Linked DNA regions of Homo sapiens: regions 2 and 3 are each reported to be linked to region 1. The links are microRNA targets in miRTarBase. Many come from high-throughput screens and were not tested one by one. Region 1 holds a microRNA gene; each other region holds the end of a gene's coding sequence.

Region 1 (3,362 bases):
AGATACTTTAGGGATCATCTAATCTAATCCCTGCATGTAACAGATAAGGACACTGAGGTCCAAAATGATGAACTTTAATCTAATGTTCAAAAACAAATTAAGACTAAATTCAGACTTTCACTTATACCTATGGTCAGGAACTTTACTCTCAATTTGCCCTGCCAAACTATCTCCTTCAAGCCAAAATGAGCATGAATTATATCAGTATTTGTAATAAGCTTAGTAGTGAGATTTTGTCAAGTTTCAAGAAGAAAAACAGTTATCATCCAATGATAGCATTAATATTTTTAAAAGAGAAAGTCCTGTTTTCCAGGAAAGTATCCTAGTGAGATAATTTATGTAGAATGTATTATATGTGGATATCAGCATGATGTACTTCTGTTAGGTCCTTTAATGCCCATAACACCTCTTCAAGGTATATACTATTATTTATACCCATTTTGCAGATAAGAAAACTGAGGTACAGAAAGTTGAGTAACTTGTCCTAGGTTATATGGCTAATAAGTCGTAGGCCAGTAGCAGGCAGTCAAACCCATAATAATTATGCTTTTAACCACTACAAGATCATATTTCTCTTCATGCTGTTATTCAACCTATAGATATACTACAAATATACTTACAAAACCACACAAATGCACGAATATGTATATATAAGGCTTTTCAGGCAGTGGGGTTTGCTTTTTAAAAGACTAGAAATAACCTAAATACCTATTATTAGAGGACTACTTTAATAAATTAAGGCATATCCTCATCATAGGGCCATTTAAAAGAATAGGATAAAGCTATTTGTGCTGATATAGAAAAATTTCTAAGAAACAAAACATGGTTAAGTTAAAAATAATAATAACCAAGATGTATATAGTATGTTCCTAATTGATTCTTAAAGGTTGCTATATAAACAATATTGAAGTTTGATTACGTAGAGAATGTTTGTGGAAGGGTGCTAGCAAGTAATTAGTAGTGGTTGCCTCTGAAGGGGAGACAGAGAGAACTAGGGATGTGAAATGAGAAGGAAATTCATTTTTCATTGTATATCTTTTTTGTAATTTACACTTTTTACCATATACAAATAAGAGTTATTCAGACTTTACAAACTACATTTTTTAAATTGTCAACTAATGCAATTTTTTATCCCAAGATATCTCTTCAACCTTAAGAATTAGTAAAAAACATACTTAAAAGTGGTTTCAAACACCCAAGTTATCATGTTTGTATTTACCTATAAGAGAGCTCTTTAAAAAGACTAGCCTTCCTAACCCTTGCCAGGATATTGAATCATTCCTGACTCACAAGAGAAAATAGCCAAATGAGTAACAAGCCTGATGCCATTTGGTAAGTGGGAGCTCAGGACAAAGAGTGTGGGTAGGGAGTGAAATGAAGGGGGCCCAGGGGAAAGTACCAAAGAGGTAGGTCCCAGTACTGCTAAGATCCCTGCAGTAATGGGACCTTCCTCTTTGGTTAATGTGTGAGTTGTAAGATGTAAAGAACAGCCTTCCTATCATTTAAATAGGTTTTTTTTTAACTTTAAGTGCATGGGTACATATACAGGTTTGTTACATAGGTAAACTTGTATCATGGGGTTTTGTTGTACAGATTATTTCATCACCCAGGTATTAAGTCTAGAACCCATTAATTATACTTCCTGATCCTCTCCTGCCTCCCACCCAGCACCCTCCAAAAGGCCCCAGTATGTGTTGTTTCCCTCTATGTGTCCCTATGTTCTCATCATTCAGCTCCCACTTATAAGTGAGAACATGCAATACTTGGTTTTCTGTTCCTGTGTTAGTTTGTTAAGGATAATGGTTTCCAGCTCCATCCATGTCACTGTGAAATACATTCTTAAATCTCAACACATACCACATGCCATCATCAATACCCACAAGACAAATTATGCTTAGTGATTGATTTAACTTGACATTAAGTGCTCTAACTACTTTCTTTCCACTTGTTCTTTCTTGGTTTGTTTCATTGTGTTCTATACCTATTAATTCAATTTTTAAAAGCTTGATCAAGATGGTGAAACCCCATCTCTACTAAAATATGAAAAAATTAGCCGGGCGTGGTGGCACATTCCTGTAATCCCAGCTACTTGGGAGGCTGAGTCAGGAGAATTGCTTGAACCTGGGAGGCGGAGGTTGCAGTGAGCTGAGATTGCACCATTGCACTCCAGGCTGGGCAACAAAAGCAAAACTCCGTCTAAAAAAAAAAAAAGCTTGATCAGATGTTCATGAAAATTTACCCCTGTCTTTAAGAATCACCAAGTACCCCTTAATTAGGAGGCTGTGTACTTGGGTAGACTGAAGTGGCCTGAGGGAGAAGGGGAGTGTTAAGAACTAAATGTTTGTGTCTCTCCCAAAATTCATATGTTGAAACCCCAATGTCATGGTGTCTAGAGATGGGGCCTCTGGAAGGTATTTAGGTTTAGATAAGGACATGAGGGTCGGGCTGTCACGATGGAATTAGTACCTTTATCATAAGAGACAAGAGAGCTTGTGCTCTCTCTCCCTCTGCCATGTGAGGGCACAGCAAGAAGCAGGATAATTTCTTTATTATACCAATTTAATAGTTACATCTGCTAAATGTAAAATGTAGTGAGATGGTTTCAGATAAATCTCACCTAAGAAAAAAATGTTCTAATGTTCCTGGTCTGAAGATTACTATAGCATAGGTAATCCAGCTATCCAGTAGTCAAAGTGTACTGTTCCTTACAGAAATAGTAAAACAGATTAAACAAGTTAGTTCATCTTATGTTGAGGCTGGATAATTTATAAAGAAAAGGGGTTTATTTGGCTTATGGTTCTGCAGGCTGTACAGGAAGCATGGCACCAGCATCTGCTTGTGGTGAGGGCATCAAGCTGCTTCCACTCATGGTAGAAGGAGAAGGGGAGCCAGTGTGTGCAGTATCACATGGCAAGAAAGGAAGCAGGAAAGGGAGAAGGAAGGTGTCAGACCCTTTAACAACCAGTTATTTCAGGAACTAATAGAGGGAGAACTTACAAACTCCCTCCCCTCATCAGGAAGGGCATTAATCTATCCATGAGGGATCTGGCCCCATGACCTAAGCAGCCCCACAATTTCAACATGAAGTTTGGGTGGATCAAATATCCAGACGATACCACAGAATTCACATGCAAATAAATACAACTAGCAAAAACAATAAAATCCACAAAGAAAAATGTGTATCTGCCTAATAATCAAAGAAATGCAAATTAAAGCAAATAAATGATAATACCAAATATACATAAAATTGCAGAGAAAGTTATACAGTCATGCTATATACACTTTAAAAAGTATTTGTCAATAAATAGCAAGAACCCTAAAGATGTTCGTAATCTTAACCATTATAACATTTCTGAGAATTT
Region 2 (3,362 bases), not on the chromosome of region 1:
CGGAAGCGCATGTCTGCGTTCCGGCCGCAGCCGTCCCCCGCCCACCATGGCGGACGCCGGCTCGGATGGTTCTCTGCTAGCTTGCCGTTCGCGTCGCGCCCCTCCCTTCAGATTGACTTTTTTCTTTCCTCGTAAGCACCAGTAAAGGTTATTCCCACCTATTTATAACCGTGGTGTAGCCACTTGAGTCACTTCCTTCTGCCACTGTTTTGCAGTCCAGAAAATTAAAATACTTCAGTATTATCCAAATCACCTTCTATATACACCTCAATCAAGCACTTGGACTAAATTTGGCATTTGGTTTCCCTTTAAACAGTTTTAGTCCTTTACGGTGATTTGTAAGCCCAGGCCTTCTTAACTAGGCAAATGCTGCCGCCAGGTGGCCTAGGCCTAACCCCAGAGCCGTTGTCTTGACGCTTAAGCTTCCGGGGAGGGGGGCGATAGGCTTCGTGACTAGGGTAGTGGTATGGTCACTTTAAATATTGCAGTGGCTTCCAAAGGGCAGTCCCCAGCCAGCAGCATCTGCCTCACCTGGGAATGCACTAGAAATAAACCAAGGGGCCCTGACATGTCTTAAACCCTCCTGGTGTCAGAGAAAACCACGTACGTGCAATTTCTTCCAGGGGCCCCTTCTATGGGTTCATCAAAACAATGAGACTTGTGACTGTTATTATTAAGAGACTCATGATTAAATTGCAGGTTTCTGATTTTGCAGTTTCTATTTAAATAGGTCGAGACCTTAAGACCTACCCAGAAAGTGGAAAAGTGGTATACCCAGACTGAGGAAGTTTGATTCCAAAGTCCATGATTTCTTATACCAGCCTCAGTTACGAAAACCTTTAAAGAGGTTCAGGGAAAAAGGAACAATCTACATTTCACTGTGAGACTACCAAACTACTACCTGATTAAGAGGGGTAACAGCTTAGCAATTGAGTTAATGTAATTCAGGAGTAAAGTTTTATCATTAGTAAAGTGCTGTACCAGGTTCAGGAAATAGTTCTTCTTTACAAGTGTATACAAGGGTTTAAAAAAAGGCCAGCTAGATAGTAATTAACTGCAAAGCTGGGTACTACTGCCAGGTGTTTTCCACATTCAGGAACTCACACCAGGTAAAAGGCCTATACGCAAATAAATAAAAAGAGAGAATGGGGAGAAAAATCACATTTATTAGTTAAGACGACCACAGGCTGGACACAACACACATGCTAAAAAGTGGACTGTCTTTTAAAACTTCCAAGGTAAATAGGTAAATGTTTTCCACAGCCCAACAATCATTTCAGTGTTTACAAATTAAAAGGCCCACGGTTAAGACATTAAACAGTAAAATATGTAATAAATGCTCCAACCTACCCTCTCCCCCGAAAGCTGCTTCTAAGTTTAAAACCATGAATTTGACTAACCATGCCATTGAAAACCATCCAGGTTACTACAGGCTGAATTAGTTTTCAATGTCTAAGTCCTAGAAATATCACTCCCTATCCCAGCCCTAGCAAATTCTAACTTTACATTTGACATAAGGCATTAACATCAATTAAAGCCTCAGTTTAATAATCAGAATTTAAATGAAGTCTCCTGAAGACCTCTCTTCTGGCAAAAAAAAACACGTATCAGACTCTGGGAAAACATTCAGACCCACTTCTAGCTATTACTGAAATAAATGATTAGAAAGTTACGTTGGTGAGCCGAAGTTAAACCTAAAGCTATCCCCTGGATCTTTCTAGCAATAAACCCATGTTGAACCTACCATGAAAACTTTCATTCACTGTGCTTTTGGTTACGTTGCCTCCTGATTAGTCATTAATTTTAATGAGGTTTTTTCCTTGTGTTGAGTATGAATAGACCTTACAGTTTGAGGATCTCTAGAATTCCCTGAATTATTGGAAAGACATTCATGACTCCCAGTGTGACTAGTTAAGAGCCCCAGGGAGCCTGTGAAGACTAGAATCTACAAGTAACCTGCACTAAGAACGAAATTCAGTAAAGGAGACTCAAGCTTAGCTCCTGGCCATCTTAAAGGGCTAATGTATGTCTTTCACAGGTTTGTTCAACATTTCAGTAATTCACAGTATAGCCAAGAGCATGAGTATAAGTCTCTTGAAAAAGCCAGTTATTTGGAGCTTTTTAAATTATAAACTTTGAAAAAGTCACCCACGTTCTCACACTATATAGATGACTTTGTATCTATTTTACTATTTTCTCATTTAACCATACTAGCAAATAAGGAAAAAGGCTATTAAATGACTCCCCTGATGCTGGAAGCTGACAAAGCTTTTATGCAATTTAGCCTGTAACTAAAAATTCACCTGTATCAATTCATTCTGACTCCTGCAATATGAATAGCTCATTATAAAGAAGGGCCTTCTGATTCCCCCTGCCTCCCAAATTAAATAAAAAGGAACAGTCATTTGTTTTCATGGAAAAAAAAAACCAAACAAAAACAAAAAAAAAACCAGACCATCTTAAGCAAAGTTTTACATGACATTATATAAAATAAAGTACAATTTCCACTTAATTCAGTCTTCAAATATTTTTTATTGGAAGGCCATGCATTGCCTTCATTTATTGTATTTCAAATCACTGTACATTTACTTTTGTGAAAACACTGCCTGCATTTTCTAGTACAAAAAAAACCTAAAAATTGTTTCAGGAATGTAGAGAAATATCCAACTTAAATAGCGAAAAAGTGCACCATAATTACTGCTGCACTGCAGTCATTTCTGCAATTCCCATGTTTCTTAAATAACTATCTTGTCAGATAACACACAATATAAAGAGCAATTATGAAAAACAGACATTTACATATACTTCTAAAGTCTTATTGGGAATATCCTGTTGGCATTGGATAACCAATCATAGGTGCAGCTGCAGTAGCAGGATATGCATATGCCTGTTGGTTCATACCATTGTGCATATTTGGAACATTACTTCCGTATTGCTGAGTGCTATCATAACCATTCTGGTAAGTCCCTGTTGGATTACCAGTCCTAAAACTGGTCTGTATACCAGCAGACACAAAATTACTTCCAAAGCTCCCATTGGTGTAATTTGCAGCACTGTAAACACCATTCTGAGTTTTTGCCCCAAAATCTCTTTTAAGCAGGCTAGAGTAACCTCTGTCATAATTTTCCCTGTCTCTAAAGGTATTAAATCCACCCCTTTTGCCCGCAGAGTATCTGTCCCGACGGTCATCCTTCATGCCTCCTCTACCCCTGGAACGACCTGTCAAGAAAACAATTGCAAATTGATCAATTATGTCTATGACACAAATCATTGTGGACAGAAAGAAACAGATCTATTCATGGTAGGCGTGAAATGTTTTTACAATTTTTCAGCTTAAGTTTTCACATTCAAGGTTTTACTCA
Region 3 (3,000 bases), not on the chromosome of region 1:
TCCCAGTAAATAACACTGAGGCCAAGGTCCCAAAATCCAACTACACTGAATGCAAAATCCAAAGCTTTTTATTATTCCAGGTCCTCTGAAACCTGGATATAAAACGGATTCTTTTCAATGCACCCAGAGGGTCCACTGTAATGACTCAGTCACATTTGTAATGACTTAGTCACATTTGTAATGACTTTGTCATAACCAAGATACCTTTTCCACTATTCCTTTCTGAATATGTAAATATTTAACTACTTAGTTCATGCACTGTGTCAAAAACTAGATTTACTATCAAGACTTTTTCTAAACTCACAGAGCATTAACAGCTAATACAACTTCCTCAGGATGCCCAAACAGAAAACATTTTGTTCAATCTTGTGGCGGCTCTGAGAAAACACAACTAAATCTTATTTTGCCACTATTTTAATTTTTCGACCAAACTCATACCTTTCTACCAAAATCCTTGAGTTGTAACTACTTCCAATGCTCTTAAACCATAGCTCCTACCAGTTTTACAGTGCTCCTTTTGTATCTGAACTTTTATCAAGAATTACTCATTGTGTTATGATTACAAAGCTTTTTCTAGGTGACCACTGATTAAAGCCAAAGTAATCAGCAATTCAAAAATGGCTTTCCAGAGACAGGAACAAAGTAAAAGGAGCTACTAACAATTTTATTACAATCCAGAAGAAATATGGTCTACTAGAAAGCTTCTACTAATCACAACACTTATGTCTTCCTTTCAGGACAGTCTTCAGATAACCAGAAGGGAAAGAACATTGTTCAAAGGTGTGGTAGAAATCTCAGTTACAGGGAGAAGATGAAGCCTTAAGAGCATAAAATACACCTACAAATTGGAGAAGAGGGTGACGCTGGCTGGCTATTTATAAAGGACCACAGTTTCTCTGTATGGACCAATACTCTACAAAATCAACTGTGCCTTAATTATTGCTTATTTTAAATTACATTTTTTACAGAGCTATGTAGTACCTGACGCAGAAAAGCAATCACATAAGGAAGCATTTATTTGAGGTTTAACATGAAATGATACAAATAAAATGTGTATAAACAAATCCACATTGAGTCATAACACAGATAGCAAAGGACAAAGTAAAAACAAAGAAAACTAATTGGCAGCTATATACAGTTGGACACAATGGTGTCTTGTACACTAGAAAGTCTTTTACAAAATAATCATCTTAGATCAACAGAAGACCAATCTTCAATGTCGTCCTGCAAGATGGGTTACTTTAACATCTCCTCCTAAAAACAAAAACAAAATACCAGTTAGATTTGTGCAACTCTGACAAGCTTTTAAAGGTCCACTTTCATGAATTGTTTTAAGTCCTCACTTTATTTTCTTCAATAATTAAAGATCATATGCATATTTATTGGTAAAATACAGTTTGGGTAGTCAATAAACTCACCCTGGAGTTCCCAAATGACATTAAATTCAAATCTATTCAGGAAAGAATCTGGGAATACAACCTTCCCATATTCAGAGGTTCAACTATGCTAGATTAAGGTCTACTAGAAGCATCTCTAGTAACCCAAGTAAAATGCTATCACAAACACCAATTTCTAATAAGTTTATTACAAGAACATAAATTGATCTGTGCATATGATCTTTAATTTATATCCCAGATTTAAAAGTTCTTGTTTTGGTTTGTAGATTTCACTATTAGCTATAAAAAGAAAAAGCAAGCATTAAATCTTAAAAGAATGAACACTTAAAATGAGGCTCCACAATTGAAATACAACACTAAACAGAAGACCAAAATGATTAAGCTGTAAAAAGGCATTTATGTACTTTAACTCCTGTAAAAAACCATTTAAGTTAAGTTTAGACACTTAATCTCCAAAAAGATTAAAAATGAAGCCAAAGTCTGAAGTTTTCCACTTTAATCTTTACGCTGGTACATGAAGTTGGAAGAGACCATACCACAGGACAGCGTTTTCTGGTGTATGCCTTGCGCTCTGCCCGCAACGTGCGACCCCCAGAGATAGACGTGGTCAGGGTGACACACGGCCTGCAATGAAGTTCCCGCTGGCGGGTACAAACAAGGTATAATGTCAGAGTTAGAAGACAACATTCTTGTTTTCCTTAAGTTGTACCCATTTCAGTACTTTACCTGTTAATAGTTCTAAAATGTTTAATTATTCCTCTAGACCACCTGGTACACAAAAGCAAACAGAAAAACTCTTAAGTTTTTCTGCAATACTAAAGAAAGTGAGATAAGACTTTAAAGTTAAAGATCTATAGACACTTTAGGCAAAACAGGCTCATAAAGCAATTAAAAAATCAACAATTTAGTAAAAACAGGCTACATAGTATTTTGTTTTTACGTTTCATTTGTCTATTGATCTTTAAATTAAATTAGACATTTCTACTGTTTTCCTGTACTCTTATACACACCTGTTTTCTCCAATGTTCTCCTTTAGTATGGCTGGTAATTGTTTTGGTGATTGCCACCCCCTCGAGATGCCTTGCCATAAGTGCTCTGTTGGCCTATTTTGAAAACACAGAATTCTCATTAAGATAGTTTTCTACAAAACTTTCTTTACAAACACAAACTATTAAATCTACAAATCTTTGCATGCTAAATAAAAAGTATTAAGATATTTTAGCACCCATTAGATGCTACTCATAAATCATACATCCTAGTTCATTTATAACCACCAGTCTATGTTAGTATAATCATCCTATGATTGTAACATGCCTCAAACACTTAACTCCGAACACTTTAATGGAAAGCCCATACACACAATTTCAGAACAGGATTGTATGTTAACAATGAATTTTAATACCACTGCTTTATAAAATTAAGTTAAATATTCTTACCACTGTAGTCTGCATATCCCTGTCCATATCCATAGTTCCCATAGTTATACCCAGTATAATCATATCCGCCATAGCCACTATAGTTTTGATCACCACCATAGGCACTATTGTAATTTCCATATCCTTGATCATAATAGTTATTAAATCCTTGGTTCCAGTTTTGGCCC

Evidence for each region. The annotated mature microRNA hsa-miR-583 reads CAAAGAGGAAGGUCCCAUUAC and lies in region 1 at 1,437-1,457, opposite strand. An mRNA with a match to its seed (bases 2 to 7 or 8) in the 3' UTR can be bound and repressed. Matches are read on the target gene's strand: a 7mer-m8 pairs with bases 2 to 8, a 7mer-A1 pairs with bases 2 to 7 and ends in A, and an 8mer does both.
Region 2: the mRNA of DDX5 is a reported target of hsa-miR-583. Seed matches in the 3' UTR shown: 7mer-A1 at 2,769-2,775.
Region 3: the mRNA of HNRNPDL is a reported target of hsa-miR-583. The part of its 3' UTR that is shown has no 7-base or 8-base seed match.

What each region holds. Positions count from the first base shown.
Region 1 is chr5:96,077,248-96,080,609 of GRCh38, reverse strand. MIR583 (microRNA 583) reads right to left here and starts at 1,472; the gene lies at 1,398-1,472. The region is part of intron 1 of LOC101929710 (a long non-coding RNA gene); the gene reads right to left. It also overlaps a transcript of CAST not described here.
Region 2 is chr17:64,497,108-64,500,469 of GRCh38, forward strand. DDX5 (DEAD-box helicase 5) reads right to left here. Exons shown (of 13, transcript NM_004396.5): 13 at 1,147-3,219. The coding sequence ends at 2,816. It also overlaps a transcript of MILR1 not described here. Among named protein-coding and RNA genes, the nearest start is that of POLG2, 1.7 kb to the left of the region's middle. RefSeq lists an enhancer at 85-224.
Region 3 is chr4:82,423,630-82,426,629 of GRCh38, forward strand. It overlaps HNRNPDL (heterogeneous nuclear ribonucleoprotein D like), which reads right to left. Exons shown (of 8, transcript NM_031372.4): 6 at 2,834-3,000; 7 at 2,408-2,500; 8 at 1-1,254. The coding sequence ends at 2,430. Among named protein-coding and RNA genes, the nearest start is that of HNRNPDL, 5.3 kb to the right of the region's middle.